Homo sapiens: one gene and its partner. The protein of the gene in region 1 purifies or fractionates together with the protein of each later gene. This does not show direct contact. Each region holds a gene or a part of one and is shown in the gene's direction. Other genes may lie near its edges.

Region 1 (3,827 bases):
AGAATAAATTTGCAGTGGATCGAGACCCTTAAAGTATGTTGAAAAACACGAGTTTATAGTGATACAGAAAATAGAACCCTCTGGTCAATCAACCTATTTTGAATTATTTTGAAAACTGTTGGATATGGGAAATGAATGAAGAATTTGTCCTGCCCTTGTAACACAAAATAAACCTCAGGGCAACCAAGTAGTTGATTATGGAAAACTTCTTTTTATATAAATATTCTAATTAATAAGTGAGGGAGGAAAGTTAGAATTATAACAGCACCCACATTTGGTAACTCTTAATAAAACAGTGCACTTAGGCGGTCATCATAAGTAGCTTGCTAACACCACAAAAAGAGACAGTCAGCTACCGTCTACTGATTTCACCACCCTCTACGGCACCTCTACAAAATATTCTTACAAAAAGAGAAAATTGACTTGAATCTGATCAGTCCCTACAGCTGGGGTCAGCAGGCTTTTCACGTAGAGGGCCACATAATAACTGTTTTTGGCTTTGCAGGCTATACCGTCTCTCTTGCAGCCGGGCACCTCTGCTCAGCTCCCTATCATAGCACAGATGCAGCCATAAACAAAGAAAAAAGCGTGGCCAGATCTGGCCCATGGGCCGTAGCTTGCAGACCCCTGCTCTAGCTCTAACAGTTTACAGGAAGGACAGAAGACAGAGAAACTTGTTGAACAGCATGACATTAATGCAGTTAGCAAAATCTACCCTGGGGAAACTCTACAGGGCAAATAACCTGTTTTTTTCAACAGAAAAAATTCCAAGGTTAAAAATGAAGCAACTAGTGGAAGATGAAACAAACAAACAACCAAAAAAACAAAGGCAAGAGGTGTAACCAGTTGCAATGTATGGAGCTTACTTAGATCGTAATTCAAATATACTATAAAAAATGCGAACATGGACTAGATATTTGACATGTTAAGGAGTTATTTTGCGGTGTGATAATGATGTCATGGATATCTATTTTAAATCCTTAGGCTGAGTCTATATGTTGAAATTATTTTGAATGATATTATATGATGTCTGCAGTTAACTCCAAAATCATCTTTGATTTGAGTAGAAATAAACCAAGCCGTGAGTTAATAATTGTTTTTTCTGGATGTTGAGTATGGGGGGGAGTATTAAATATTTGCATATGTTTGATATTTCCCATGATATAATGTTTTTAAAAATATATGTATGTTTTATAAAACATGATCACTTTAAACCTTTTATAGAGAATGAGAGAGCATGGAGAACTTTTCCTTCATTAGACGCTTCTGTGTCCTCCCAAAATAGGTGTGCACCATCCAGCTATGAATGGACCCAGAAGAGTCTTTCCAGTGGTTTTTCCCACCAAGCTGTCTGCCTACAACTTACTTATTATGCTACATAGAGCAGACTAGTGTCATATTATTTATCATTTGTTCATGCACTATATGTAAACTTTTATTTCATAAAAAGAATTTATTAGGTAGAAAATGAGCTTCATGTTTTGTGTCTGGCTATCCTAGTTGCCACTGTTCAGTTGTTCAGCACTGGTTCCAGGCTAAGGGGTCTCGTCACAGGTGCTCACACAGCCTGGAGAGGTGATGGCAGTGGCGGCCATGGCAGGGTGTGAGGCAGCAGGGAGCAGCGGGAGCGAGGCACGCTGGAAAGTGGGTGCCCAGCCCATAAGGGGTGGCGTCTGTGCAGAACATTTGCCATGGGGGTGAGGGTCCAGTAGTACTAGAACGTCCACTCTTTTTCATTTTTCCTGAGAATAACCCTAATCTAGACTTGTGACATTTTTTGACTTTTAGTTGCTAAAAATATTTTTAGAATACTCTGTATTGCACATCAAACACTTGCTGGATTAGTCCCACGGGTCAACCTCTGATTTTGTGTCTACCAATGAATGGTAAGGCCCTAAACTGACCCTGTGGGCACCAGGAGTCTACAGTCCCTGCTTTCCGTGAGCTTCCAGTCTACTTGCGAGGAAAGAAAACATACTTGGAAAACAACTAAAATGAGACAGGCAAATAGGAAATGCTATAGGAATTCAAAGAAGAGAATAAAGAACCTCATCTTTAACAATCAGGAAAAACATCACACACACCGTGGAAGGAGTTGGGTAGAAGTGTCACTGTTGCTAGGTGGAGGCTAAGGGAGAGAAGCAGAGGCTCGGGCTTGGGTAAGCAAGCTCTTTCAACAGAAACTATGATTCTTGAAAAAGAGAAGAGTTGGTAGATTTTTGGAGACTAGTACCCCTCCCCACCAGTGGATAATTTTTCTGAACGATCAAGTGAAAACAGGTAGCAAACTGTTGAAAGTATAGCACTGCAATTCAGCAGAGAGTTTGAGGATTTGAGCTGCATATTTGAGCATCACCTGTGTAGAAGAGATGGTTGACGCCATTGGGTCTATAGAGAGTGGGTTCCTCTAATGTCTGCTATTGGCAAGCAGTCTATTTATAAATGTTAGGGTTATATTTTGAGTCTGGCATTTGCAAAACTACCATCCCATTATTTACTACGTTAAATCATGGTTAAAACTCAAAGCAGTACCCAGCTATTTCATAAACATTCCCCGTATTGGAAAGGAGAAAGGTTTGAAGTAAGAGAAACTAGAAGAACATAGGGAAGGAGATACCTGGCATTTGGAAGGATATGCCTGTGGCGATGGCTCTACTGATGGGCTTATGATCTTCCCTCCAATGATGGCCTAGAGACCTATTTTTACTGTTGTGAAACAATATTCAAGCAAATGATAATCTTCCATCTTGTTGCTATGCAGTACATTTGGGCAGCACTCTTATTTCTCTCTGATTTGAAAGTTTAAAGTGTAATTTCTCTTAAAAAGGAAAATAAACAGGAGGTTTCTATGTACTTCCCATTATGGCATCTGCTTGTTCCAGAGATCAAGCATTTCAAAGCTTGAGAACTCCAAGTTACTTCATGTAAACGATTGTCTATTTGGACATGAGTGTGTTTCATTGTTAGGAATTATGCAGGCCTAAAGTAATTTATAGATCAACACCCACTCTCCTGGCTACTGAACTTTGGAGAAAAATGAAAGCTTATTCTTAGACACGTATATAAGCCAGGTGAGTTTAGACGAGTGAGCATTTGGCCTAGGAAACCAAGGCCAAGGAGAAGTTCTGCCCAGCACATCAATCAAAAATAGCTCTGATTCCAAGTTCTGCACAGCTCTAACACTGTCCCAGTGCACTTTTATGAAACTGTACATAGACAGCTCTCAAAAACTTCCCAAGTCCAAGAAACCCAGAAAAACACCCATAACAGCTTTCTTCCGTGTCATAGGAAAACTGTTCTTTTAGCGAAAATTTATAATGAAGCAGAATTCTGCTAAATAAGATGGCTGTTTATTTGGGAGACTGTCCTTGTGACTTTAAGACATTGGAGCTGTTAGATTTCTCACTGTCACTGATCCTTTCACCCTGTTTTTACAATGTTTTATATATATATATATATATATATATATATATAATATATATAAAATATATAAAATATATTTATATATTATATAATATAATATATAATACTACATATATATAATATATATGTAGTATTTGAGTCTATCAACTTTAAGCTACCAGAGGCAAAACCAGTTTAATGTTCATGTCTTCTGAATCCAAATTCTAATATTTATTCAAATATTCACTAATCTAGGAGCATTTCTTTGGGGAGGCTTCAGGAGTACAGATTATAGTGGGCCGAATGTAGACACCAGAATAGACTATAATGCAAGAGACAACAATTGAGATGGATGAAGTTGGTCACTGCATTTGGCCATTTGTAAGAAAGATTGTACACAATGTTTTATACTTATGATGACTTTG
Region 2 (3,827 bases), on another chromosome or scaffold:
TCTGTTTAACAAAGCACATCTTGCACCACCCTTAATCCATTTAACCCTGAGTGAACACAGCACATGTTTCAGAGAGCACAGGGTTGGGGGTAAGGTCATAGATCAACAGCATCCCAAGGCAGAATTTTTCTTAGTACAGAACAAAATAGAGTCTCCCATGTCTACTTCTTTCTACACAGACACAGCAACAATCTGATTTCTCTATCTTTTCCCCACCTCTCCCCCTTTTCTATTCCACAAAACCGCCGTCGTCATCATGGCCCGTTCTCAATGAGCTGTTGGGTACACCTCCCAGACGGGGTGGTGGCTAGGCAGAGGGGCTCCTCACTTCCCAGTAGGGGCGGCCAGGCAGAGGCGCCCCTCACCTCCCGGATGGGGCGGCTGGCCGGGCAGGGGGCTGACCCCCCCACCTCCCTCCCGGACGGGGCGGCTGGCCGGGCAGAGGGGCTCTTCACTTCCCAGTAGGGGCGGCCGGGCAGAGGCGCCCCTCACCTCCCGGACGGGGTCGCAGCCGGGCAGAGGCGCTCCTCACATCCCAGACGGGGCGGCGGGACAAAGGCGCTCCCCACATCTCAGACGATGGGCGGCCGGGCAGAGACGCTCCTCACTTCCTAGATGGGATGGCGGCCGGGAAGAGGTGCTCCTCACTTCCCAGACTGGGCAGCCGGGCAGAGGGGCTCCTCACATCCCAGACGAAGGGTGGCCGGGCAGAGACGCTTCTCACTTCCCAGACGGGGTGGCGGCCGGGCAGAGGCTGCAGTCTCGGCACTTTGGGAGGCCAAGGCAGGCGGCTGGGAGGTGGAGGTTGTAGTGAGCCGAGATCACGCCACTGCACTCCAGCCTGGGCAACATTGAGCACTGAGTGAATGAGACTCCGTCTGCAATCCCGGCACCTCAGGAGGCCGAGGCTGGTGGATCACTCGCGGTTAGGAGCTGGAGACCAGCCCGGCCAACACAGCGAAACCCCGTCTCCACCAAAAAAATACGAAAACCAGTCAGGCGTGGCGGCGCGCGCCTGCAATCGCAGGCACTCGGCAGGCTGAGGCAGGAGAATCAGGCAGGGAGGTTGCAGTGAGCCGAGATGGCGGCAGTACAGTCCAGCCTTGGCTCGGCATCAGAGGGAGACCGTGGGGAGGGGGAGGGGGGAGAGGGAGACCGTGGGGAGGGGGAGGGGGAGGGGGGAAGAGGGAGAGGGCTCTTTTCTTTTCTCTCTACCTGTTTTAGTTTTTTAAGTCTGTTATATGTTAGCAACATTGAATTACGTTAATATATGAATTATGCTCTCAGTTTGTATGTCAGATAAGTTACAAACAAAAAAGGCATACTCAGAAGAAAACGTAGAGGTTGTAGGTCTGGAAGGGGTTGACAATCACACCCTCATTTGTTTGCAGTATGTTGCCATGCATTGCACTTTTACTTAAGCTAGGTTAAGTAGCTTTACGGGTTATATTATCTTAAATAACAGTCTCTATATTACTTTGTAAGGAGAGGTAGAGTAACCAAGAATAGTTCTTTTACCTCACAGGAGTGATCGAACTTAAAAGATGAGTTAGAAAGTGTTTGAGATTCGTCCTTTTCAGAAATAACAAGTAGCATTAGATAGTATGATACTTAGAAAATATTTTCAGAAAAAATAAAAACTTAAGTCTTTGATGTAAACATGAGTGAGAAAGTTAAGTGCTTTTTTGAAGGAAATTGATGCTTGGAGCAGAGTTTGGCACATATTTTCCTGCAAAAGTTCAGATCGCAAATCTTTGCAGCTTTTCAGGCAATGCACTCCCTATTGGAGCGACTCAACTCCCATTGTAGCAGGAAAGCAGCCATAGGCAAACATACATGAATGGATGTGGCTGTGTTCCAGTAAAACTTCATTTACAGAAATGGGGATTAGGCTGGATATACTTTGCCAACCCTTGCTATAGTGAAAGCATTTTGAATATATATTTTTAGAAATGCTTCTTTCATCATTATATGATTTTACCCAAAATAAGTAGAACTTGAAATCTTTGAATCACTTTATTACAAAATATTAAAACCAAGACTTTTTAAAATAATGAAATTTATTTAGTTACATTTTCACTGAGAGATATTATCAATATTAATTTTTAGTGAGAGCCAAAAGGTTTTTTCTACCCACTAATAAATAAAATGTATTATTTAAATATTATTTATTTCATTTATATCTTATCCCATTAAGTTAACTTTTATATTTTATAATTTACATAATCTATGAGAACATCATACATATATATTATATAAATAAATGACTTAGCTTGGGAATTATTGGGGTTTTTTCCTGAAGGTAGAGCACTGATCCAAATACTGTTTTGGAGATTTTAGATGAGTTTTAACCTTTGCTCTGCAAGTTCTCTGAATACTTGTGTAATTATAAAAACAGTATTTGTATAAACTTAACAGGGGACAGGTTGTACACATATACCCAGACAGCTAATCTCTGCTGTTTGTACTTGTTCAAAATGACACTATTTCTCCTAAAGATAAATTTAGTCATTCTTGTGAGATGTAAATGTTTATGCTTCTCAGTCACTAAGTATTTTACTTCATGTTTTAATTCTTTCTGTAATTATTTCTTAGTCTATCCCTTCATAATTGTAGCTCTAATTTTAAAATGTTTTCCCTAATTATAAAATTATGCAAATGTATAAAAAGCATTTTTTCTGTGTTTTTTTTTTAATTAGGATTATACTATCTAAACAATTTTGTAACCTGCCTTTTTCCCGTTTGTAGTAGTATTATGGTGTATGTACTCTACCTCCCTGCCTACTGCCATGTTTCAGCCATACTTTTTTCCAGAAGATATTTTAAAAGCTCTACATAAATGTGTACAATGTAACAAAATAGAATAAATTAAAAGTGGTTATTACATTTTTTTTTTAATGGAGTCTTGCTCTGTCACCCATGCTGGAGTGCAGTGGTGCGATCCTAGCTCACTGCAACCTCTGCCTCCTGGGTTGAAGCAATTCTGCCCCAGCCTCCTGAGTAGTTGGGATTACAGGTGCACACCACCACACCCAGCTATTTTTGCGTTTAGTAGAGATGGGGTTTCACCATGTTGGTCAGGCTGGTCTCAAACTTCTGACCTCAGGTGATCCTCTCGCCTCGGCCTCCCAGAGTGTTGAGATTACAGGCGTGAGCTACTGTGCCTGGCCAAATGTCTTTTGATAACATGATTTATAATGGCTTTACAATATGCCAGCTTGTAGATTTACCATAATTTATTTAATCACTGCCAATCATTAGATATTTAGGTTGTTGTCAGTTTATTTCATTTCAATAAATGAGGCTGTGATAAATATCCTTATACATAATCTCTGTTTACATCACTGATACTTTTCTCAAAAAATCTATATAAAATTCCTAGATCAAAAAATATAAACATTCTTAATATATTAATGCCAAATTGTATTATAGAAAAAGTACATTTAGTTGCTTAGAGAAGAAATTCTTAGTTTCACTATAGAGCATTCTCTTAGTGTCTTTTACTGAAATCTTTTGTTCACAGAAAATATCCCTGTTAGTATATCCTCTTTTATTACTTTGTTGGATGTTTAATAAGTCAAGGATTATAAATTATAAATAATATATATTAAATAGGTAAATATTAGTTTTTTTCCTCTCAAAGAAATTCCTTAGATATTAAAGATTTTACTCAGTGGAACTAAACTTTCCTGCCTCATCAGTTATTATTGCCCATTATTAATTGAAAGTTATATTCGTGTTTAAAATTTATATGTATTATATTTCTAATAGACTTGACCATAGTCAGTATTTTTGTATTCTAATAATTATAAAGAAGGTTTAAAGTC

Evidence for each region.
Region 2: the proteins of SERPINE2 (region 1) and AGL fractionate together in Homo sapiens (co-fractionation; one large-scale study listed by BioGRID). This does not show direct contact.

What each region holds. Positions count from the first base shown.
Region 1 is NC_000002.12:224,004,713-224,008,539, reverse strand, and holds part of SERPINE2 (glia-derived nexin isoform b precursor), read left to right. Parts: intron 1-3,827. UniProt on the Homo sapiens protein: Serine protease inhibitor with activity toward thrombin, trypsin, and urokinase. Promotes neurite extension by inhibiting thrombin. Binds heparin.
Region 2 is NC_000001.11:99,856,672-99,860,498, forward strand, and holds part of AGL (glycogen debranching enzyme), read left to right. Parts: intron 1-3,827. UniProt on the Homo sapiens protein: Multifunctional enzyme acting as 1,4-alpha-D-glucan:1,4-alpha-D-glucan 4-alpha-D-glycosyltransferase and amylo-1,6-glucosidase in glycogen degradation.